Linked DNA regions of Homo sapiens: regions 1, 2, 3, 4, 5 and 6 are each reported to be linked to region 7. Evidence: microRNA targets listed by miRTarBase, many of them from high-throughput screens and not tested one by one. Region 7 holds a microRNA gene; each other region holds the end of a gene's coding sequence.

The links. The annotated mature microRNA hsa-miR-497-5p reads CAGCAGCACACUGUGGUUUGU and lies in region 7 at 997-1,017, opposite strand. An mRNA with a match to its seed (bases 2 to 7 or 8) in the 3' UTR can be bound and repressed. Matches are read on the target gene's strand: a 7mer-m8 pairs with bases 2 to 8, a 7mer-A1 pairs with bases 2 to 7 and ends in A, and an 8mer does both.
Region 1: the mRNA of ZNRF2 is a reported target of hsa-miR-497-5p. The part of its 3' UTR that is shown has no 7-base or 8-base seed match.
Region 2: miRTarBase lists RUBCN as a target of hsa-miR-497-5p. Seed matches in the 3' UTR shown: 7mer-m8 at 774-780.
Region 3: the mRNA of ZNF691 is a reported target of hsa-miR-497-5p. Seed matches in the 3' UTR shown: 8mer at 2,667-2,674.
Region 4: miRTarBase lists FZD9 as a target of hsa-miR-497-5p. The part of its 3' UTR that is shown has no 7-base or 8-base seed match.
Region 5: the mRNA of SIDT2 is a reported target of hsa-miR-497-5p. Seed matches in the 3' UTR shown: 7mer-m8 at 2,509-2,515.
Region 6: the mRNA of CAMSAP1 is a reported target of hsa-miR-497-5p. Seed matches in the 3' UTR shown: 7mer-m8 at 1,858-1,864.

The regions. Positions count from the first base shown.
Region 1 is chr7:30,362,041-30,365,362 of GRCh38, reverse strand. ZNRF2 (zinc and ring finger 2) reads right to left here. Exons shown (of 5, transcript NM_147128.4): 4 at 2,907-2,986. The coding sequence ends at 2,929. Among named protein-coding and RNA genes, the nearest start is that of LINC01176, 27 kb to the left of the region's middle.
Region 2 is chr3:197,672,044-197,675,365 of GRCh38, reverse strand. RUBCN (rubicon autophagy regulator) reads left to right here. Exons shown (of 20, transcript NM_014687.4): 20 at 170-3,322. The coding sequence ends at 348. MIR922 (microRNA 922) reads left to right here and starts at 790; the gene lies at 790-870.
Region 3 is chr1:42,851,241-42,854,562 of GRCh38, reverse strand. ZNF691 (zinc finger protein 691) reads right to left here. Exons shown (of 4, transcript NM_001242739.2): 4 at 2,086-3,322. The coding sequence ends at 2,750. Among named protein-coding and RNA genes, the nearest start is that of ZNF691, 6.3 kb to the right of the region's middle.
Region 4 is chr7:73,435,357-73,438,678 of GRCh38, forward strand. It overlaps FZD9 (frizzled class receptor 9), which reads left to right. Exons shown (of 1, transcript NM_003508.3): 1 at 1-764. The coding sequence ends at 427. Among named protein-coding and RNA genes, the nearest start is that of FZD9, 3.2 kb to the left of the region's middle. RefSeq lists a silencer at 63-357.
Region 5 is chr11:117,195,501-117,198,822 of GRCh38, reverse strand. It overlaps SIDT2 (SID1 transmembrane family member 2), which reads right to left. Exons shown (of 26, transcript NM_001040455.2): 25 at 2,908-3,021; 26 at 1,381-2,819. The coding sequence ends at 2,757. LOC100652768 (a long non-coding RNA gene) reads left to right here. Exons shown (of 8, transcript NR_045215.1): 3 at 35-86; 4 at 387-504; 5 at 916-1,037; 6 at 1,419-1,593; 7 at 1,677-1,815; 8 at 2,789-3,210. Among named protein-coding and RNA genes, the nearest start is that of TAGLN, 2.2 kb to the left of the region's middle. RefSeq lists a silencer at 536-830 and enhancers at 233-896, 2,229-2,728.
Region 6 is chr9:135,808,827-135,811,826 of GRCh38, forward strand. CAMSAP1 (calmodulin regulated spectrin associated protein 1) reads right to left here. Exons shown (of 17, transcript NM_015447.4): 17 at 1-2,785. The coding sequence ends at 2,483. Among named protein-coding and RNA genes, the nearest start is that of CAMSAP1, 97 kb to the right of the region's middle.
Region 7 is chr17:7,016,983-7,020,304 of GRCh38, forward strand. It overlaps MIR497 (microRNA 497), which reads right to left and starts at 1,040; the gene lies at 929-1,040. BACC1 (BPTF associated chromatin complex component 1) reads left to right here. Exons shown (of 6, transcript NM_174893.4): 5 at 1-32; 6 at 279-538. The coding sequence ends at 283. It overlaps RNASEK-C17orf49 (RNASEK-C17orf49 readthrough), which reads left to right. Exons shown (of 8, transcript NR_037717.1): 7 at 1-32; 8 at 279-542. It overlaps MIR497HG (mir-497-195 cluster host gene), which reads right to left and starts at 2,672. Exons shown (of 3, transcript NR_038310.1): 1 at 2,396-2,672; 2 at 87-406. It also overlaps MIR195. RefSeq lists enhancers at 1-225, 1,577-1,746.

The DNA of each region.
Region 1 (3,322 bases), not on the chromosome of region 7:
CAAATAAGCAAATATAACACTCATATGTAACATAAGAAAATGGAAATGTTGTTGAAGACCAACAGACATATGCATTTCAGCTATGAGATGAGATGTATGCTCCACATATCCCATAAGCTCACTGTGACACTAAAGGAAAAATTTAGCTGATGAAAGAAAAAAAATTTATACAATATAATTCCACCTCACCAAAAAAAAAAAAAAAAAAAAAAAAAGCTTATCAGCTCTATGGTCTAAATGTTTGTGTACTCCCAAAATTGCTATGTTAAAACCTAATCTGCAGTGCTATAGTATTAAGAGGTGGGGCCTTTGGGACATGATTAGGTGATGAGGGCTCTGACCACATGAATGCAGTTAGTATCCTTATAGAAGCTTGAGGGAGTCTGTTATCCCACCACGTGAGGACACACAGAAGGTGCCATAAATGAGCAATGAGCCCTCATCAGACACCAGATCTACTGGCTGGAACCTTGATCTTAGACTTCCCAGCTTCCAGAACTGTGAGCACTAAATTTCTGTCATGTATAAATTACTCATCTAAGGTATTTTGTTATAGCAGCCCAAAATGCACTAAGAAAGACTAAAAAGACAAATTTTATCTATAGATGAAGGATTTAGATGTATTACTTTGGCATGTAAAATACTAAGACAAAAATTTCATTTTGTTAGCATCAGTTTCAGTACTTCCCTTAAAATGCTTCTATAATTTTAGCCACAGTTTCGTTTTGTCTCAAACATAAGGTGACAATGAAGGCATTCCAAACCTTTTCTATGGTGAAATAAAAACATATGTGCACATATATTCAAAATACCACTCCACCACTATACTTCTCTTACCTAGCATTCTTACTTCCATTCACATTTTATTTATTTATTTATTTAGACAGGGACTTGCTAAGTCACCCAGGCAGGAGTGCACTGGTGTGTTCATAGCTCACTGCAGCCTCAAACTCCTTATCTCAAGCAATTAGTGTTCAGCCTCAATTCATATTTTAAATGTGTCAAGGCATGATCTAAGTAAGTTCACAGGAAAGGTTAAAATTGGCAGTCTTTTAGTACTCTGCAGTCTACCAAGGCTTCCACATTTCACATGCACATGCGTAGTCTTATGACACTCAACTGCAGTTCTCATTTCAGGTGCTATTGCTGCTATTATCTCAAATCTTCTCTGTCAATATTCTAATCTGCTACTCTTAAATCATCTTCCACCAATACAGCAACAGAATTCCTTGAGGGTGTTTATTACCTCAACACTTTTATTCTCAAATTTAAGAGAAGTTATTGAAATAAAAGGAAATGGTACCACACAGGACTAGACCTCTGGACGTCATCTGGTCTAGTTCCTTGCCATCAGTCTCAGCCTCCTAGAAAAGCCGGCTGTTACTGTCTTGAGTCCCTGAACAAAGAGACTCTCACTCCTGAAACAATTCTAGGATTAGCTAAAATGCTCTGCCTTGATATAACAATCCAATGCTTTATATCATCTCTCCAAGTCTTTTCATAAAAGCTTTTCATATATTTGAAGATAGCAATTAAGTTAACCTTTATTTTTTCAAAGCTAAATGATGTCAATTTAATGCACTTGTGAAATGTGAAAAAAAAAAGCCCTATGAAAATACCCAATTGAGGTCAGCATTCAATTCACTAAACATTTTCAGATAATGCAGAACCATGAAAAACTTAAATCAGTAGAACAAAACTAGTTTTTTTTTCAGTCGTAAAATGCAACTTTATTTTTTGCCTACTATATAGACAGGCACTGTATTACATGCTAAAGATATAAAAGTGAATGATTAAATTGAATGAATAAATTTATGATGCGACTGTTTGAAGAAAATGTTCCTACCTAAAAAGAGCAAAATTGCTAAGAACAGTCTTTGGAACCAGAATACCTGGGTTCAAATTTCATCCCCACCAACAAACTAGTTATCTGAACTTGAAAAGTCAAGTTTCTTAACCTCTCTATACTTAATTTCTTCATCTGCGTAATAGGAACAGTAATGGTACTGAGCTCAAAACGGTTATTGTAACAATTAGACAAGTTACTAATAGATGTAAAATGCTTACAACAACACCTGGCACATGATAATACTAAATGATTAGAATTATTATTTTTTGGTTTGGTTGTTTTTGAGACAGTCTTGCTCTGTCACCCAGGCTGGAGTGCAGTGGCATGATCTCGGCTCACTGCAACCTCCACTTCCTGGGTTCAAGTGATTCTCTTTTGTTTTTTGTTTTTTTTGAGAAGGAGACTCGCTCTGTCGCCCAGGCTAGAGTGCAGTGGCACGATCTCAGCTCACCGCCAACTCCACCTCCTGGGTTCACACCATTCTCCTGCCTCAGCCTCCCAAGCAGCTGGGACTACAGGCACCCGCCACCAGGCCTGGCTAATTTTTTTTTGTATTTTCAGTAGAGACGGGGTTTCACCGTGTTAGCCAGGGATGGTCTCAATCTCCTGACCTCGTGACCCGCCCGCCTCGGCTTCCCAAAGTGCTGGGATTACAGGTGTGAGCCACCATGCCCAGCCTCAAGTGATTCTTGTACCTCAGCCTCCCGAGTAGCTCGGATTACAGGTGTGCACCACCAAGCCTGGCTAATTTTTGTATTTTTAGTAGAGACAGAGTTTCACCATGTTGGCCAGGCTGGTCTTGAACTTTTGGCCTCAAGTGATCCACCTGCCTGAGGCCTCCCAAAGTGCTGGGATTACAGGCGCGAGCCAGCATACCCAGCCAACAATTAGAATTATACAATATTTTTAATGTAAGTTTTCTATGCAGTAGCCTAAGTGTCTGAAACATACACATACACACTCATGCACCTCAATGAGTAAATGAATAAATAAAAATTATAGTTTAGAATGTATAATTTGGGCTAACGCTTTAAAAAGTAATTACAAAAAAAATTACCTATAAAACAGGAAGCTGACGCTTAATCTGAAGGGTGCTCAGGGCAAGATCTATTTACTTCAAACCATTCATCTATGCAGCTAGAAAGGAACAAAACCAGAAAAATTGAGATACTTATACTAATTATTTATATAATGAGAGCCACAGTAAAAATACTTGACTTTAATATATTTTTTACAGAAAAAAATGAGCATTTTAAATTATATTTGGCATACATAAGCAACAGATAAGAATGTTTATTATATTTTGATTCTAAGCGATTAAGAAAAAAACCTTTGCAAAATTATGCTATAAAGTACTTTAAAGTTCAAACAGAACTACTTCCAAAAGATAATCTGAACTACCACTTTACCAATATTCAAAACTGAATAACAAATTTGCATAATTTTTCTTTTCAAAACAGTTATTCATTTATG
Region 2 (3,322 bases), not on the chromosome of region 7:
CCCAGAGCCACCCCTGTTAGCAAGAGTTCGGTGCCACTCAGCACCTCGCGGGGCCTCCCCAGGGGACACCACGCCTTGGTGGCGAGAAGGGGCTGTGGCAGCAACTGACCTCTAGCTGGAGATAATACAAATTGTTTTCTTCTCTCCCCCACCTTCCCAACCTGAGTAGAGTGTAAAGCGTGTTACCATAAAGCCTGCTTCAAGTCTGGAAGCTGTCCGCGCTGCGAGCGGCTGCAGGCCCGGCGGGAGGCACTGGCCAGGCAGAGCCTGGAGTCTTACCTGTCAGACTACGAGGAGGAGCCCGCGGAAGCGCTGGCCCTGGAAGCCGCCGTCCTGGAGGCCACCTGAAGAAAGCACGTGCAGCCCTCCCTCCGGGCCGGGTCACACCTGTTGCAGAACTGAGCCACTCTTTGAAGGACTCGCCCCACCTGGGGCTTCTTTTTTTTTTTTTTTTTTTAATTATCATCATCTTTTTTTTTTTTTTTACTGACTTGTCTGACGTCTGTGTGCAGTCAGCCGTCGGCAGGTTGATGGGTCCAGAGTCTGTGGTGACAGATAATTTGTAAACACCAGGTGTTTCCATCAGAACTGACATGCGGGTCCTTCAGTGAAGCTTCTAGTGCCTCTGTCAGTGGAAGAGACAGCAAGACCAAGTTCTTCCAGCGTCTGTGGCCTTCTCCTCTAGGTTTCACCTGCATGTCAGGTATCATTTCCAATTTTCCTTTGTTTCAGTTCTGGAGCTTCTGAGCCAGGCCTTTCTCAACCACCTCTCCTGCTGCTGAAACGGGGATGGCGTTTTCCCTCTCCCTGTCCTGGACTGGGGTCAGACTGTGCCCCGAGGAGAAGCAGCAGAGAATAGGACTACGTCATGGGCATTTCGTCCACTTATTTGGGTATTTTGGGGGCCACAGAACAATCCTGACTATCCTAGACTCCTCAGAGACCTCAGAGGCAGCTGTGAATGTCCCTATGTTGCCGGGAGTTCCTGTTTGAAATATTTGAAGCATAGAGGATGCCACAAGCTGACTTTCTTCATCTACCTTGGTGATCTTGAAGCAAAGAACAGAACTGATGCTCAGGCCAGGCTCACCTGTAGCCTTACGCCGCAAGCATACGTGAGGCGCCAGCTCTGTCGCTGAAGGAGCGCTTACTCAGAGGAGCGGTCGGCCCCCTCTTGGTGTTAAGGTCTCTTAGTTAACCTGGCTTTTTGGTGCAGGTGTGATCTTTGAAGCTCAGGCAGGTCCCTGATGCCATCCTAAGGTGAGGACAGGAACCTCACCCACCATCTTCTTAGCGTGTCCCTGATGACTCTGTCCTCTGTTAGATGGTCGTTGTGCTTCTGAGTAAAAGTACAACCCGACTCCGTTCTCTCCCCTTCCTGCAGCAGAGCTGGGTCCTTCCCTGGTGGCCGAGTCTCTCTTGCCTTAGCTTCTTTGGTCAAAGTTGGAGAAAAGCTTCCTGCTATTAGTGCTGTTACAGAACTTGACGGTTTGTGGATGTGAGTGTGAATGTCCCTGTGTTCTTGGGATAACAAGAGCCTTTATGCCAATTATGCACTTAACTCTGTGTAGCCTGGTAATGTTTATCTGTTCATTTGATAATGCTGATTTTAGTGTGCTGCCCCCCTCCCCCCGTTAATGTGTGTTGATGGTGAAGTCCTTTTGATAATGCTGATTTTGGTGTGCTGCCTCCCCCTTCCCCCCCGTTAATGTGTGTGTTGACAGTGAAGTCCTTGGGTGGGGCCATGTGTGTGTTTGTGATGTTCCTTAAGTTGATGCAGCTTCTAACCTCTGTGAAAACACTGGTCAGAGTGGCTTCTCCAAGAGCTGGCAGCTCTGTGAACTAAAGCCTGCATCATTTTTGTTCTGGGATTGAATTCTGCCCATGGGCATGTCTTCTCATAGTTGCTTGCTGGTAGGAAAGAAATGGGCGTGGGTGCTGCCCTGGAAGCTGAGCGGAAAGTTGCCTGTGGTTGGTGGAAGCTGATGAGAGCTTGAGCTGGCGGTAAGAAGGAGTCTCCCAGGGAAGTGGGAGAGGCATTAAGGTGATGGCCAGGGCTGAGGCTCCACCAGCGTGAGAGGGAACATGTGGGAACTGGCCCCTGCCCTTGATTCCTCTGCCTCAAAGTTGGGATCTGAAAGCCATGTAGGGCTAGAAGACCCTGAGGCTGTTCTCCCTTCTGTTCATAGTGAGACTCAAAAAGCCAAGTCCCAGAAGTTCTGAAGGGCTGTGACTAGAAGTGCCCAGGTCCTTCAGGGAGCTTTAAGAATGACCCCACAGAACTCAAGTTTAACTAGGGGTTAGGTCCCAGATTCAGACCCAGGAGTTTATAAAAATGAGCTCTACTTCCAGTTTTGGTTTAAATTACACATCCAGGCCAGGCACAGTGGCTCACACCTGTAATCCCAGCACTTTGGGAGGCCAGTGCGGGCGGATCATGAGGTCAGGAGTTTGAGACCAGCCTGGCCAATGTGGTGAAACCCTGTCTCTTCCAAAAATACAAAAATTAGCTGGGCGTGGTGGCACACGCCTGTAATCCCAGCTACTTGGGAGGCTGAGGCAGGAGAATCGCTTGAACCTGGGAGGCAGAGGTTGCAGTGAGCCGAGATTGCGCCACCGCACTCCAGCCTGGGTGACAGAGTGAGACTCCGTCTCAAAAAACAAAAAGGTGACACATCCAGCTCTTTCTCCAGGTCACTGCGCTGGAGGACAGATGTGCCGTCTTGTCCTGCCTGTTTCACATCAGCATAGGATCAAAGGATGACAATGCTGACAGCTTCTGAAGCCGAACTCAACAGTCTCATAGGCTCCTCACTTGTCACTTATTTTTCCCTAGCTCCCTCAACCGCACCCCATCCCTTTAGATCGTGCGTCTGTTTTAGTGACTCTGACACGATGCCGTCCTCACCTTCCAAATACCCAGTTATTTATTCAAGAGGGGGGAAGTGGGTAGAGGATGGGATGTTTTGGAAGCACTTTGCAAGTTACCACTATCTGAAAATCCCCTGCTGTTGCGGGGAGAAGCTTTGAATGCACTGAAGAGAATTCCTTCTAAATGAAGGCAGGTGATAGTGTTCTTTCTGTAAGTAAAGGGAAAGAAAAAAAACATAGTTTGCTTACCAGGTGGAGACAAGATTCAAGACATAGCAGAAGAGTGGAAGACAAATATTTTCCACTTAAATGAGGCTGTTTTTGACGTTCTCTGCCAAGGATTTAGAGCTTTCGTTGAACTAACATAAAAGGAGTGCGAGTCTTAGTAGAGATGTTCCGTGTGTGCCGCCCGTGCTCTGAACTGCGTTTCCACCTGCTGTGGTGCTTGTGC
Region 3 (3,322 bases), not on the chromosome of region 7:
AGGCCGAGACGGGTGGATCACCTGAGGTCGGGAGTTTGAGACCAGCCTGTCCAACATAGAGAAACCCCGTCTCTACTAAAAATACAAAATTAGCCGAGCATGGTGGCACATGCCTGTAATCCCAGCTACTCGGGAGGCTGAGGCAGGAGAATCGTTTGAACCTGGGAGGTGGAGGTTGCAGTGAGCCGAGATCCCGCCGTTGCATTCTATCCTGGGCAACAAGAATGAAACTCTGTCTCAAAAAAAAAAAAAAAAAAAAAAAAAAATCACAGTGGTTGTCACAAAGTCTCCAAGTCAGGAAGGAGTCAGACTAAGCTTCCCAGACTGAGAGGGGATCTGTAGACCTAGCTTGATAGTGGGTATAATGAAGAGCTTGACCTTGGGATCAGACATACCTGAATTAAGTCTCCACTCTGCCAATAGGTCTGGTTATTTAATCTCACAGAATTTTCTTGCCTTGAACATGGGGACATTACTACCTTACAGGATAGTATGAAGACTAGAGATAAGAGTTGTACAATAATTGGCACTTAGTAGGTATTTAAAAGATGGTGATTTTTATTATTAGGGTGTGTGCCAACTCACACACACAAGTTTGGGTGACTATGTTTAAAATATATTGTGTGGAGATTTTCAAGGAATCAGAAAATGTGTATGAAATAAAAGTGCTTGGTAAACAGTAAAGTACCCTATAAATATAAATGAATCATTTGGGAAGTCTTTTATAGTTGGATAAAATACAGGACTTGAATTTGGGCAGTAGTTCAGGTCCTACACCCCGCATTTACTTGCTCTGTAACCTTGGGCAAGTCCCTTTCTTTATCAGCCTATTTCTACATACGGCAAATGCAAGTCACTCTTAGTTGCTGTGAGAATTCAATAATGAGTGTAAAGTTCCTGGCACATCTCTTACTGGTGAACGGCAGGGTCCCCATGTTAGGTAAGGTTATGGGTGATGTCAGTTCCAAGCCCGGTGCCAGAATCACACTCTGCCAACTGGCTACAAATGAAGAGGGCCCCTCACTCTGGAAGAGTAGGGCCCCAGATTCACAAGAGAGGTAGATAGGGGTCTTTTGTATTTGTTAGAGGAAGGGTTCTTTTGTATTTGTTAGAGGAAAACTGGGTGAACACTAAACTTCCATGTAGAAAACACTGAAATCTGCCATGTGGAGCCAGGCCTAAACCAGGAGGACAGGAAACCAGACATAATCCCTGCTAAGCTGTTCCAGCCTTGAGGACTAAACTATTGCTACTAAAAGCAAAGACTCTCATTATGGGTTTTAAGATTTCTCTCACCTTATCCCACCCTTCACCCTGTACTCCCCGTCACTGCCGTTTTTCCTTGGCACAGAGTAAGTGCTCAATCAATAACATTGAGGCCAGGTGTGGTGGTGTGCACCTGCAGTCCCAGCTACTCCATACACTGAGGTGGGAGGATTACTTGAGCCCAGGAGATCAAGGCTGCAGTGAGCTGTGATCACACCACTGCACTCCAGCCTGGGCGACAGAGCAAGATCCTGTCTCAAAATAAAATAAAGTTGACCTCAAAATAAAATAAAGTTGAAAACGTTCTCATGCTTGGCACTGACTTGCCATAGAGCAAATGGCCCAAGGCCATATGAAGAGGCCACACTGGCTCCTAACTCCAGGCAAGTCTCCTAAGTGGCTCCTCCTTCAGAAGCCAAAAGGTAAATGTAGTGAAAAGAGCAACAGCTGGCAGTCAGGGAGGCCCAAGTTTGAACTCTGCTCCACAACGTACTTGCTGTATGACTTCACAGCAAGTGACTTTATCTTCCCTCACTTTCATGTCCTCTTCTTATTCCTTTGAGAGTTGCTGTGAGAACTACATGAGATAATGAATGTAAATGTGACTGACAGAATTAATCGCATGTAGTGGATGCTCAATTAATGTTAGTTCCTTTCCTTTCCCCCTTCTCCTCAAAGGCCCCAGAAACTCAGTCTGCTTTCCTTTGCTTTTCAGAGCATCTACCCATCTGTCTTTCTTAGAATTCAAATCCCTTCCAGAGTGGGTTCAGTGGGACAATCTCCCCAGCTCCCCACTTCCCCAAATAAGTACACGGGTCCTTTTCATTGAAGGGTTTTACTGCTAATCACTCTGGGGAAAACAGAGGCAGGTTGGGGGAGGGATAACAAGTAACAAACATGGGGGAGTGTGAAGGTCCCTGGGTCATGGCTCCCTGAGGGTTTCCCTTTCATTTCTAAGGTGGGACCTCAGATCTCTTCTCCAGACCAAGGAGGCCCCTTCCATTGAGAAGGTCACTCCTCCCACCCCAGAGATCTAGAAGCAAAGTTGGGGCACAACAGGTGGGAACTAGCAGGAAACTGCAGTGCACTCCTACCTAAGCAGTTCACAGACAATTTGGAGAACCTTCAGACAGTGACACCCATCTCATAAGTACTTCCTCAAAGGCCAGGGGGACTGCTGCCTTAATAACATGAGCATGTTCTGAGCCTACCCTATTTCTCTTTCACCCCAAGAAAGTAAAGCCAAGACTGGGTCTTCTGACTTTCCAACACGAGAAATTGGCCTGGAAAGAGGCAAGGGTTTTTATTCCAGAGTCCCTCCTCAGGACTTCCTGAGATCCTGACTTCAGAGGCTATACAAAACCATTCTCCAAAGTGGGATGAAGGGCTTGAGGTCAAGGTAGCAGCAAAAGATGCTGAAGATCTTCCTCCAATAGGTTAGGGTCTCTCACTCTCTCTCCCTCACTCTAAATGGGGCTCTCCTTCAGCTGGAATCTTTCCCAGCCTGTTCGCCCAAGTGAGTTTTCTGGTGGCGGATGAGATTCGAGCTCCGGGAGAAGTGTTTCCCACACACAGTGCACCGGTAGGGCTTCTCCCCTCTGTGGGTCCGCTGGTGTGCTCCAAAGTTGGAGATATCGCTGAAGGTCCGCCCACACTCAGTGCACTCATAAGGTCTCTCACCTGTGTGGGTGCGGTGATGCACGCCAAAGCTGGAGCTGTTGCTGAAGCTCTTCCCACACTCACAGCAGATGTAGGGTGCTGGCTCCAGGTGGGTCCGGTGATGCACAGCTAGCGTGGCACTCTGGCTGAAGCTCTTGCCACAGATGTCACAGCGGTATGGCCGCTTGCCTAGGTGATCTTGCTGGTGCGTGGTGAGGTCTGAGCGCCGCCGAAAGCTCTCCTGGCACTTGGGGCATTTGTAGTGTTTCTCTTCCAGGTGGATCCGCTCGTGCCGGATGCGGTTGGAGCTTCTCGAGAAGCTCTTGCCACATTCAGAACACTTGTAAGGCTTCTCACCAGTGTGGATCCGCTGGTGTGTTCTCAGGTTGGAGGTATT
Region 4 (3,322 bases), not on the chromosome of region 7:
CTTCTCCATCCTCTACACGGTGCCCGCCACCTGCGTCATCGTTTGCTATGTCTACGAACGCCTCAACATGGACTTCTGGCGCCTTCGGGCCACAGAGCAGCCATGCGCAGCGGCCGCGGGGCCCGGAGGCCGGAGGGACTGCTCGCTGCCAGGGGGCTCGGTGCCCACCGTGGCGGTCTTCATGCTCAAAATTTTCATGTCACTGGTGGTGGGGATCACCAGCGGCGTCTGGGTGTGGAGCTCCAAGACTTTCCAGACCTGGCAGAGCCTGTGCTACCGCAAGATAGCAGCTGGCCGGGCCCGGGCCAAGGCCTGCCGCGCCCCCGGGAGCTACGGACGTGGCACGCACTGCCACTATAAGGCTCCCACCGTGGTCTTGCACATGACTAAGACGGACCCCTCTTTGGAGAACCCCACACACCTCTAGCCACACAGGCCTGGCGCGGGGTGGCTGCTGCCCCCTCCTTGCCCTCCACGCCCTGCCCCCTGCATCCCCTAGAGACAGCTGACTAGCAGCTGCCCAGCTGTCAAGGTCAGGCAAGTGAGCACCGGGGACTGAGGATCAGGGCGGGACCCCGTGAGGCTCATTAGGGGAGATGGGGGTCTCCCCTAATGCGGGGGCTGGACCAGGCTGAGTCCCCACAGGGTCCTAGTGGAGGATGTGGAGGGGCGGGGCAGAGGGGTCCAGCCGGAGTTTATTTAATGATGTAATTTATTGTTGCGTTCCTCTGGAAGCTGTGACTGGAATAAACCCCCGCGTGGCACTGCTGAGTCCTCTCTGGCTGGGAAGGGGGGAAGGTAGGAGGGTGAGGGCCCTGCAGGAGTCTTTCTTGTAAGCAGAGCTGGCAGTGGGTGCTGGCACCCCCCAATCAGGAGGAAGTCCCCCCGGAACAGCTGTGCATTGCAGGAGTCCCAGACACCATGTGTGCGTGTTTTCCCCTCCCGCCCGTCTCTGTGCTTCCAAATGGAGACAGGGACGCCTGCGGATGTTCAGGGAATTCCCCAGGGTGACACTGCCACCTCTGGCCCCAGGGAGTCCAGTTTGAGGCTATGGATGAGTTTTCCTTCTCTGGGAACTTGCTCTCCTTATTGGCGTGGAAAGTAAAGGTGTCAGCCTGTGTCAATGTTGTCACGAGGACCGCCTCCCTGGGGCCTTGGAAAATTGCTGGTGCGTCTGCCTGGCTCCTCGGGGCCCCCACCAGGGCAGCCCCCACCAGGGCAGCCCCAGCCTGCTCCCTGGCGTCTCCAGGTGGGGTGAAGAGGTTGTTCTGGTCTGTGGGCCTCTGGGTAGCACAGACATGCACGTGGAGCTGGGAAGCCCTTGAGTAGAGTGGGAATTGGGCCCCTAGCTCCTAAGCTTGTCAGATTTGAGTTGCTAATGGCAGCGGTGGGAATGAGGCAGCTCAGGTGGCTGTGCAGAGCTCCACACTGGGGCAGGTATGGGGAAAGGTCCCATGTCCATCTGTGTGCTGGGGTAGCTTAGGGCTGCTAGGGCCTGTCCTGTTTCTGCGGACTGGGTAGCTGGGCACGTGTGGCCATCTGGAGACCCCTATTGGCTTGGGGTCAGACCCCAGGGCCCCATCTTGGCTGCTGTGACTCCAGCCAGGTGAGAGTATTAGTTACTAGTGTCCCTGGGTGCCTACTATACACGGCCGGCATTTGGTGTCAGTGCCAGGAGATCCCAGCGGTCCAGCCCTGCTGCCAGCCTCACTTTAGAGCCACGGGGAGGCTCCAGGAGGGGAGACGCTCAGGTGCTGAGGATGAATGGTGAGGCGGAGCCCCAAACCTAGGGCCTCTCGGGCTGGAGCCCTGTGCCCTACCCCAACCACCAATCCTACAGGGACAAGAAAAGTCCAGTGAGAATCAAACAGGTTGGGTCACGCTCCCAGGAGACAAGACCATGGCAGGCTGAGGGGGTTAAGGGGTATTCCTCACCACAAGGCGCAGTGGTGCCCCAGGGAAGCTTACAGCCCTTGCACCTGTTCTTAGGCCGTTTATTGCACGGGGAACGCCCTCTCCATCTAAATCCTTCCCTTTGCGCAGAGCACACATTAAGTAAGTCCCCATGTGCCTCTGACCAACAAAGCCAAGTGACCCTACCTCCTTGTAATGCTGCACGAGGGTTTTTTGTTTGTTTTTTGTTTGTTTTTGTTTTTAATTTAAGGCAGAGTCTCACTCTGTTGCCCAGACTGGAGTGCAGTGGCACGATCTCAGCTCACTGCAATCTCTGCCTCCCAGGTTCAAGCAATTCTCCTGCCTCAGCCGCCTGGGTGGCATCCGCCACCATGCCTGGCTCATTTTTGTATTTTTTTGTAGAGACGGGGTTTCACCATGTTACCCAGGCTGGTCTTGAACTCCTGGCCTCAAGTGATCCACCCACCTTGGCTTCCCAAAGTGCTGGGATTATAGGCTTGAGCCACTGCACCTGGCCATGCGAGGGTCTTTGAGTGGGAAACAGAATGAGCTCGTTAGAGGCAGTAAAGTGCCCACACTGGGCGTGGGAGGGGCAGAGGCTTCAGGGAGCTGGGCTCACAGGCAGTGGAAGGGAAGATGGGAAGGGCCTATACCAGGGCGGGGGCAGCTGGAGCGAATGGAGAGGATTCCACAGACTTGGGAAGAGCAAGGCAGGCGGGGTGTGGGAAAGGCAGGGGGAGGATGAGCATCCAAGGGCACCCACCTGCCCCTTCTTTCTTCCTTGCTGTCAGTGACCATGTCCTGCTCAGCAGACACCAGCCTGCTGCTGGTTTTCAGGGCAGCCCAGATGGGAGCGCAGAGAGGGGCAGTGCAGGGTCAGGACAGGCCCCGGGGGCTGTGCTTTGAGGCCAGGACCTGGGAGGGAGGGCAGGGCCCTGCCAGCTTTCTCAGACCTGGAAGATGCTATGGAAATAAGTCCTAGGCCCTGGAGGAAAGGGAAAAAGGAAACACAGCCCTCTCATGTGATCTGCTCGCCTCACGTTTCGGACGGGAAGTGTTTAGATTGGTTGGCCGCTACAGCACATAGCCACGCAGTTTGAGGCCAAGCTGGGAGTTGAACCCAAGTCTGCCTCCAGAACTTTTGTGCGTTCCACACCAGGGATCCGATTAGGTCCTGGTGGGGAAAGGCAGGGTGTATGCCTTGGCAAGTTTATGTCCCCAGAAGCTGGGCAAAGCGGGTGGGGAGGAGACAAACACCCCTACCACTGCCAGACCTCTCCCCACGCCCATTAAAGAACCCTCCAGGGCCAAACAAAAATACCTCGGAAACCCACACGTGCTGGCATGTGCATCGCGTGCCCAGGCCCGGGCCTTCCCCTTAGTGGTCCTGGTGCCCAGCATTTGGGTC
Region 5 (3,322 bases), not on the chromosome of region 7:
AGTGTGAGGGTGTAATTACATCCCCATTTTATAGATGAGGAAACTGAGGCCCCGAGTGCGTCTTCCTCAAGGCCACATGGTGAATGGTAAGTGGCAGATCCTGCACACCTCTGCCAACCCGCATGGGTGCAGGAGAGGTGGTCAGACCCACCCTTTCAATTGGACCACCCTGCTCAGGTTGAGAAGAGCTTTCAGTGCAGGTAGGTCTTGAGTTATATGCTTTAGTTGGGGCTGGGATTTGAGGGTTCGGCAGAAGCTGAGTCCAACTCCGGTCCCCATCCAGTGGGCAGTGTCAATAAGAGGGTCTATAAGGCCTGGCAGGGCCTGAGACACTAACGCAGGAGAAGGAGGCTCAGGAGGCTGGTATCATCCCTTCCTCCCTTTAGGAACAGTCCCTACCAGCCTGGAAAACAGACCAGCCTCTGTCACTCCAGAGATAACCCACTCTCATCTTGCTCGTACCTGGCTTCAGGGATCTTGGGGAGAGATAAGAGGTTAAAAAAGGTGAGACTAACAGTGGGATCCCTGGACTGACTGCTGTGGCACTCCCCTGCAAGGGCATCTGGTAGGGAAGACCTAACACTCTCCACTACACACACACTGCCACACCCGGCACCACCCCTAGCCAAACAAGGCCCTAGGAGGGGGCTGCCAGGCCTGGCAGAGGAGGGGCCCGCCTCCGCAGTTCTGCCCACTGCAACTGGACATGCTCCAGAGCCCAGGGGAGGCACAGCCATAGCACCTCCCAGTGGCGCCTGCAGGAAAAGCAGGAAGAGGAGTGGGCCCTGGCGAGGGGAAAGCCCACTCCTCCATCCCTGACCCTGCAGACCTCTGGTTGTGTTCTGAATTCAACAGATTCCTTGGCCCCCAAATCATGTCCTCCTTAGCCGACTGAAGTCTAAATGAATCTTTCAGGGACATATCAAAACTCCCTCCTCTTGGAGCCTGCCCAGCTTTCATCACCCTCCTGCCTCGGCCTGCACGCTGAGCGGATTATAAACGCCGCATCAGGGAGCACTGCTTGGGCCTGTGGCTTGGTGAGCTGGGGGCCGCTCAGGTCAGAGGTGAAGTGAGCCTCAGTCTGGTGGGCGGGGCCAGGTGGGCAGAGACTGCTGTTCCTGGGGAGGTAAGGAGGGATGTCTGCAGTGGGATGGCGTGGGAAAGGCTTTTCCAGGAACTGGCCTCTGTCCAGCACAGTGCCCCGGTAAATGTTTACTGAATTAATGCTGTTGCTGGAGGGACAGGAAAAACGGGAGAATCAAGGAATTGCAGTTCCCAGTAGGGCCATGGCTTGAAGAATGGGGAAATGGAAGACCTCCGCCTCTCCCCTCATCCTCAACAGCTCCACCCAGAGGGAGTGCAAACAAGGGCCCCAAGAACTGAGTCTGGTTGTTTATTGAATGCAAATTCATTCATAGAAAACGGAAATGCAACCATAGCATGGAGACGCTCTGAGAAAAGATCCAGACCCACCTCATCTCCCAGCCCTTCAAGCAGAGCTATAAAAACAAGTTTGGGAGAAAAACACATTCCCATCCCCAAAGCAGAGGCCCCGCCTGAGCTCCCCCATCCTCAGCATCTGGGGTGGACCAGGTGGGACGAAGGGGATCCAAGGACCAGGGTGGCCAGGGTGCCCAGAGCTGGGGCAATTCTTTGTAAACTCCAAGGTTTCATAGGTATGTGTGTGCATGACTAACACAGAACTTGCCTGAAGACTGGACGGAAACTTAGAAGCCAGCCCTGGGTCCTAGAGCGAGGCTAGGACTGGGCACGTAGAGGGAAACAGCACATCCCTTCCTGAAGCCCCTTTCTAAGGTAGGCACTGGGGTGCCCACAGCTGTGGAGGCAGAACGGGCTGAACTCTGTATCATCCCTCCTTTGCCCCTGGACATTCTTGGGCAGTGTCAATGGCACTGAAAGGCCACCAGCTGGGGTTTGGCAAGACTAAGGGCCTGGAAAGAAGGAAGGGAAGGGGTGAGGCGCTTCTCCCTCCAGTCCTGGTGCTGGCATCAGTCTGGGAGCTGATGGGATGAAGAGGTGACCTCTGAATTCAGCCTCTTGAATCAGAAGGCGGTTCTCAAATTGGGCTGAGCGCATTGCTAAAGAGCCAGCCCTGAGCACAGGTCAGAGGGAAGAGAATACGCACTGCCCCAGGCCCCTTGCAGGCCTTAGCACCAAAAGTCTGGCACCAGCTGGCCAACCCCCAAAATCTCATACCCCCATCCATCCTGGCTGACTGGAATGGGCAGTGATGGCAGCCAGGGACAGCCCAAAGAGAACTGGGGCCCTGATACAGGACAGAGATTCAGGCCCCAGACTAGGCCCTGGAGTGGGAGTATGGGAGGAAAAAGAGGCCTTAGGTCCCAGGCTGGGGCATTGTGGGGAGGAGGACGGGCAAAATGCAAGGCATGAAATGGGGAGGGTGTCCCTTCCATCCTTCCTCTTGCAAAGGGACAAATGGAGAGCCAAAGGACAGGGGCCCATGGAAGGCCCCAACACTGAGAAGAAAGCAGCAATTTGGCCAACATCTGGGGGTTCCAGGGGAGCAGGCCTGCTCCTCGGCAGAGGGCAGCTGCAAGGTTCCATGCCACCCCATGGCTGTCCCAGGCCAAGCCTAAGCTAGACCTGGCTGTCCTGCTGCCATCCAGTGCTGGGCAGCGGTGCTGGGACTCATCCCCACAGCACGACAGAGTGACCGGTCTATGACACAAAGGAGCTCAGGGCCCCTTGAGGTGAAGCGAAGGGCCCAGCTCCTGCTAGAAGACATAGATCTTGTCCCGCTGCACAGTATCCAGGTCGTCATCCAGTGTCAGCAACACCTGGGGTGTGGACGCCAGATCAGCCACAGAGAAGGAGGCAGCTGCTACCTTCACGTACCCACCCGGCTCGGCCGGGAGGCCCGCTTACCAGGAAGGACCCGAACATGGCGATGGAGGAGAGGAAGTGCCAGATGTCGTGGTCGTCAAAGAAGTCGAGGAGGATGCAGTCCCGGTTGTGCTCCCTCGACTCTGCAGGGGTTTTCTTGGGGAGCAACAAGAAAAACTGCCGAATGACCCTGCTCTGGCAGGGCAAGGGCCAGACCCATCTGCCATCTTGCTCCTGGGCACCCCTCTCTCCAGCCCCAGGCAGGACAGCAGCAATTCTGACCTGTCCCTTGTCCTTGTCCCTACCCCTTCCCGATCTAACAAATGGCCTTTGGTTACAAACTTCTCCCTGAGTTCACTGGCTTCTCTTCCCTTTTCTTTCACTCTTACCCTCCTCCTTCCTTCTGATTCTCTTCCCTTGACCTAAGAGCACAGGGTTGCAACAACCTTGAAGGCCT
Region 6 (3,000 bases), not on the chromosome of region 7:
CCAGAATTCTAGCATTACCAAGGATTTACACATAAACTTCATCATACATTGAATCATTTGGTTTACACTTTCTTTACAAAGTTATATCCTAAATGGGTAGAGCAGCTTGTCTTAAATAACAAGGTTAGAATTCTGAGACACAACGAAAGTTGTGCAAGCTTTCCGCTGAAAGAAATTTGCAACGAGACACAAATACCACTGCAGGGGCTTTGAATATAGGAGACATTGATAAACAGAGTTATAAGTCAGTGTTATCAACTGCAAAATCATGACTTTACCACCACCCAAGCCAGAAAGGCCCAAAAGCACCACCACGAAAATTAATCCTGTGTCTGAAACTTTTCAAGACTAATTAAAAGGGTTGCTGTGTCCAAGCATGAAGAACGCAGGGACGCTTCTGTCAATCATTAGGCGAACACTGGCCTGGGGACTTGGGACATCAGGAATGTCCATGCCACATTAGTGCTTACTCGCAACGAACAGTGAAAACTACACGCTTAAGGACAAGTTTCAGGATGTTCCACACACTGACTCATTCCATGGAGAAAATCCAGAATTGATTCAGACGTCCCATGGGAATGCAATTTTCCAGCTCTATGCCAGATATTTTCTAGCTCTTCATTAAAAAGAATCCAATTCCACTGACTTCGATAGGGCCATGGTAAAGAACAATGTGAAACTCCTATAAAGCAAGGAGTTGGTGTCGCCTGGTCAGCGAAATGAGCCACAGCAACCTCACACATACGATTCAATGTAAAGCAAATTAGTTCATCACTTTATTACATCTTAGTGCTTTCTTAAAATAAATACAGTAATATCATATCAAACATACAGTGAGAAATAAAGCCCACGTGTGAAAGTATGGTAACAGAAAGCTCACTCAGGACTGTGTAACTCAGCACTTGAGAAATCATACAGCCTTTAGTTCCCTATTTACAGGACAGAGAGCGGCTGTGTCGAACACGATATATACAAAATCGCAAGAGACTGTACTTCTCTTCAAAGGACTGAGGAAAGGGGAATAAGACCTATAATTCCTTCTAGCCTTCTGTACCATGTTCCCTCCTTATGTACACGACTCACTCATGTTTTTTGTCTATCTAAAATTATGTAACAGTTAAATTTGTCTCTTTTTCTCCCAATTATTGATCTTTTGATTTTTTCTGCAGTTTGAGATAGATTCAAGTAACACTCCCAAGAAAATATGTGCAAAACTAATGTTAGTGGCTCCAGAATCTTCCGGCAGCTGGTCAGTTGCAGCAGTGTCTGGCAGCCATGGCTGGCACGCACCTGCTCCTGGGAATGTCCGCGCTCCACAGAAGCATCAACACCATTGGGACCAAGGCAGAAAGAACCCAAAGCCATCCACTTACTTGGAGTTCTGAAATAACTGCAAATAACCACTTAATTGTTTTTAAATAGGCAACAAAACAAAAGTATCCATCTACAGGGGAAACGGCACGCTCCTCTGAGAGCATGCAGCGCTTCCAGATGCAGAATCCAGACAGGACAAGCCGTGACCTAACAAAACCACTGAAGGGACTGTCAGCTTAAGTGCATCACCTTTTGGGACAAACATGCTCAGAATGAAAAATATTCTACTTTACCAAAATCTGTCTTTATTAAAGTGAACAAACCATTAGAGCACTACCCAAAACTTAATGAATGATGGCTGCAGTTGGCTCGGCTTGCCTACTTTAAATGAGGCAAACATCAGCTCCTAGTGCCATTCCCCACCCTCATGACCGCGTGCCAGAAGTCATCATCTTCACATTTGTAGACGTTGTTCTAGCGGAAGACAGGCTTTGCAGATTTCGGTGCTTTTAGTGAACTGGTGTTTTCCGTAAACTTTTTCTGAGCAGCAAGGGATAAGAATTTTTTTTCAGAAATCTTAGAATTGGATATAAATGTTGGCAGTAGACACAACCAATAAATATCATACAATTTCTCAAATGAAAAAGATTTCCCATTATGAATTCCTTTGCTATAGACATTCAAACACCCCAAGCCAAGATTGAGCCTCAGTCCCATAGTCACGAGATTACAGCTGGCCAATATGAGGGTGTCAGGCAATGTGCAAGGGGGCGAGGTGAGAAGCAAGAAAGCAAAGTGGATCACGTCTAATCTATGCTGAAGGAGAACTTCAAGTAAGGGAGCTCCGTGGCCCGGGACCTGGCTGTGAACACCCTCCGCTGGGAGCCTCAGTGGTCAGCAGTGGCCACAGCAGTGCGAGCCACTGCAAAAGCGGCATCTACTCCCCCATCCTCACCCTGCCTGGCATCCTCTGCGTGAGATGAGCGCTGAGAGAGGGGTTTTCTTCTGCTGTCTAGAAACCTCTTTGCAAAAGGTCTGTGACTTTGCACACTTCGTACCCAAATAGATGAAAACAATAAATAAGGACCCCGTGGCACCCTCTGGATGCCAGCCACAAGGGCATCATTTACGAGTCTGGGTCACCCTTTGGACGCCAGCTGCACCGGGGTCATTTACGAGTCTGGGCCTTCTTTGGCACTGCAGGCCGCTTGGGCTGCCACAGGTGGTTGTGGATTGTGAGTGCGTCCACACTGACAGACATGGTTTTGGCTGGGATCAAGTTAAACTGTTTTCGGTCTGAGCTGTATTTATACAGTTTGTCGATCATTTTCTTGGTGATGTTCTTTGGCCCCGTGCCAGTGAGTTTGTAGATTTCCTCAGTATCAGGATAGTAGCAGTAAAGCGCCCTGAACTGGCAGCCAGCATCACGAAACAGTATGATGTAGTGATTGGCATCACACTTCTCCAGCTCCTGTGCAGAGAGAGAAAAGGGGAAGAGACAAACACTTCAGGGCCACTCCAATTGCCACGAGTTGGGCTCCCACAGCGGCTCAACCAGCACCGCTCCGTGGGAAGCTCTCCCACCCGTCAGCTACGGCCTGCCTGTTGTAAACAATTACAGCAGACCCCTGTACGGGAGCATTATATGCCATTGAGACTTTACTTAAGAAGTCTAAGCAAGCAAGG
Region 7 (3,322 bases):
TCCTCCAGCTAAGAAACTCAACTTCGACCAGGGTAGGAGTCCTCCTCCTCCCACACAGCTGACGGGGTTGGGGAGAAAGGGCTCACCTGGATGGCAGGGCACGGTCTCCGCAGGGGCCCCTCCCTTGTATAGGGGTTTCAGAAGAGAAGGTGCTCTCATACACAGCGCAGGGCATTGGATCAGTACGTAGCAGGGTGTTTCAGGGAGGTGGGAGTGGCCTTGGAAGCACACTGGGGGCTCGCTCCATCTCGGCCCATTTTACTTCCTGTTCCAGACAGCCTGACCCTGGATTCTGGCCTTCTCATGACCTCTGCTGATCCTCCTCTCCTCTCCTGCTGAGCCTTCCACCTCTGACCTCTCACTGTTCATGCCGGACCTGTGGATCTCCTGGGACTCCGAGCAAGGCCTGCACGAGAGAGGGCTGAAAGGCTGCTGGGGCTGCCACCTCGCTATTCCCGCATAAGCATCTGCCCCCAACCCCTTTGACCTTCATCTGATGGACATTTTTATACAGAAAACAATAAAGATTTCCCTCTCAGCTTCGTGCTGTCTGCTTAACATTATTAGCAGGAGAGGCCTGTTCCCTCTTCTCTCCTCGGCCCATGGGGGCTCAGCCCCTCCTCGGTAGTTTTCACCACCCTGCCTGGAGCAGCACAGCCAATATTGGCAGACTCGCTTCCCTGTGCCAATATTTCTGTGCTGCTAGAGCCAGGGAAGCTGGGTGTGGGCAACAAAGACTCCACTTTGTTCTCTTGAGGCAGAACTTACTCCCAGGGTCTCTGGCCATCAGTATTCTTGAAACTGCCCTGGAGATTTTAGAGGGGTGCTTACATACCCCACCCTCTCCTTGCCCACCTGGCAAGAAGTTTGTCACAAGGCCCCAGATGTTTTTTGTGTCACTTCTCCAGGATGGCCTCCCAGGGCCAAGCCTCGGCGGTGCCTCCCCCACCCTCGCTCTAACACCACAGTGTGGTTTGGACGTGGCCACAGTGCCGTACAAACCACAGTGTGCTGCTGGGGCGGGAGCAGGACCGGGGTGGGTTGAAAGGAAGAGAGCACATAGCAGTGCTGGGAAGACCCCAGCACCACCTCCAGGAGCGGGGGGATAGAGAAGCCTTAAAAGGCAAACATGGCCCCCAAAAACGTTTGGGAGGAACCAGGGACGGGCTGAGCAGGCAACTGGAAGGCGACGGACCATGGGGATGAGCTCACAGTGTAGTAAGATTGGACCATCTTCCCTCTGTAGGAACTCAGCTCAGGGGATCCCTAGGGTGGGGTCAGAGGCAGAAGAAATAGGGAATGACTGGAGGGGCCAACACACTGCCTCCTGTCTCAGCAAGGGCAGGGACCCAAGGCTTCCTGTGTCCGTCCTTCCTCTCCCTGGGTCAGAACCCAAGAGAAAAGCAAGGAGAGACAGAGGGCCAAGGCCAGCAGGGTTGGGAGTTGGCAGTCCAGAGGTGGTGGGGCCGGAACATGGTTGGGAGAGGGGGGCCGGAAGTCGCCCTGGGCCCTGGGCCTGCCACAAGATGGAGGCCAAAGGCAGGAAATGGAGACCAGGGGGAAGGGGAGCAGCAGAGCCCAGGAAGAGGGCCATCTGGACCTGGGGGGCCAGGTATTCAACCCCCAGTGCTGTTCCCACTCCCCAGGGCCCCTGAGGACCCGAGCCGGCCCCCACAGCAACCTCCATCAGCCCATCCACCAGGCCAGGGCAGGCGGGCCCACCCCAGAGAGCCACGTTTAAGCTGAGACAAACATGCCTCTCCCCACCCCCAACTCCAGGCCTTCCCTCAGCCCTTTTCTCCTGTCCAGGACTTGATTTTTTAAAAACACCCCTCAGAAAGCAAAATCCAAGGGCCAAAACTCCTTTTGCAAATCAAAATATGACCCCCTAAAATCCAGAAGTTATCTTCCTATATCCCATCGCATCTTTTACCACCCCCTCTTCCGACACACCCCCCAAAACTCTTAGCAATCTGAAAGATCCAAGGTGGTGTATGTAAGCAGTCTTTTTAGGCCCCCGAAGATGCCAGACCCCTCCCGGACACCCCTATCTGCCCTCCATCAAATCTTGCCAAGGCCTCCTGCTCCTCCACCACCCTCCATAGCCCCCAAACTAACAGTTGCCCCCAGCTCCTACCTCGGCAGAGCCTTTGTGGGGGGTGAAAGAGAAATTAAACACTATCCTAACGGCTGGGGATGTTGGGGGGCTCTCTGGTCTCAGCCTTTGGTTTCCGTCTGGGGGGCTGCAGTTTAGGGGTATAAGAGAAAGCCTCTCCAATCATCCCCCCAATTCCAAGACTGACAAAGCCAACCCCACCCCAGCACGCACCTCCAAACCTCCCCCCCAACCGCCACGTCTCTCCTGAAAACAGAGGACACTTCCCTCCCCACTTACCTCAGCTACTCTCCCCTGAGATCCTGGTCCCCTATTTTGAAAAGAGCAAAATTTAGGGTGCATCCCTCACATTTGGGGTGCAGGAGAAAGGAGCCGCCCCAGTCGCATCGCTGGCCTCCTTCCTCTCGGCTGGCTCAGGGACTGGGGAGTGCCCTGGGGAGGGGGCACCCCCACAAGAGATCTCAGGAGGGGTTCCTCCACTCCCAGTCAGAATTGGGGACACCCCCCCAAAACCCGTCCCAGCCCATCCGTCTCCAACTCGGCGGGAGAGGCAGCTGCAATGCCCCAGTCAGATTCACCCAACACTACATTCCTCACCCCATCTAGAGGGGTCCCGGGGTCCCCAAAAAATCCCAAAAAAATCTAGGATGTTGGGAGGACGGTCCTGGACTAGCTCCCCAAATTTGGGGTCCTCAGATACCCCCGTTTTTTCAGGAAAATTCCGTCTTTTGCCTGCCTCCCGCCAGCCCTGCTCTGTCCCGATGCCAATTTTGGAAGTCACTCCCTCCTTCCTCCTCCCCGTCTCTCCAGGCCCCCCCCACCGCTCGGGGGCTAGGGTCCAGGACACCTGGCTTCCAGACCGGGGGGAATCACTCCTCAAAGGGCTAGGGGCCAGGAGGTCAAGCTCATTGCCCCTGTCTTAAGGAAGCAGGAAAGCCCGTTCCTCCCTTCCCCTCCCCCCTGGCTGGTCACCGTGGTGGTTTAGGAAAGCCTGGAGGATTGGAATCTGCCATTGCTGTTGCACAGGCAGTTTTTTTTCTTGGGTTGGGGGGGTGGGCGGTGGGAGGGAGAGAGGGGAGGAGGGCCGAAGAGAGAAGGGACCCAGGCGCGAAGAGCTGGCCTGGCTTACCCTGTAGCCCCGGCTGCCGTGGGGAACCCCTCCCCGCCATCTCACCCACACTCCCAGTCCTCTGTCTGCTTTCTGTT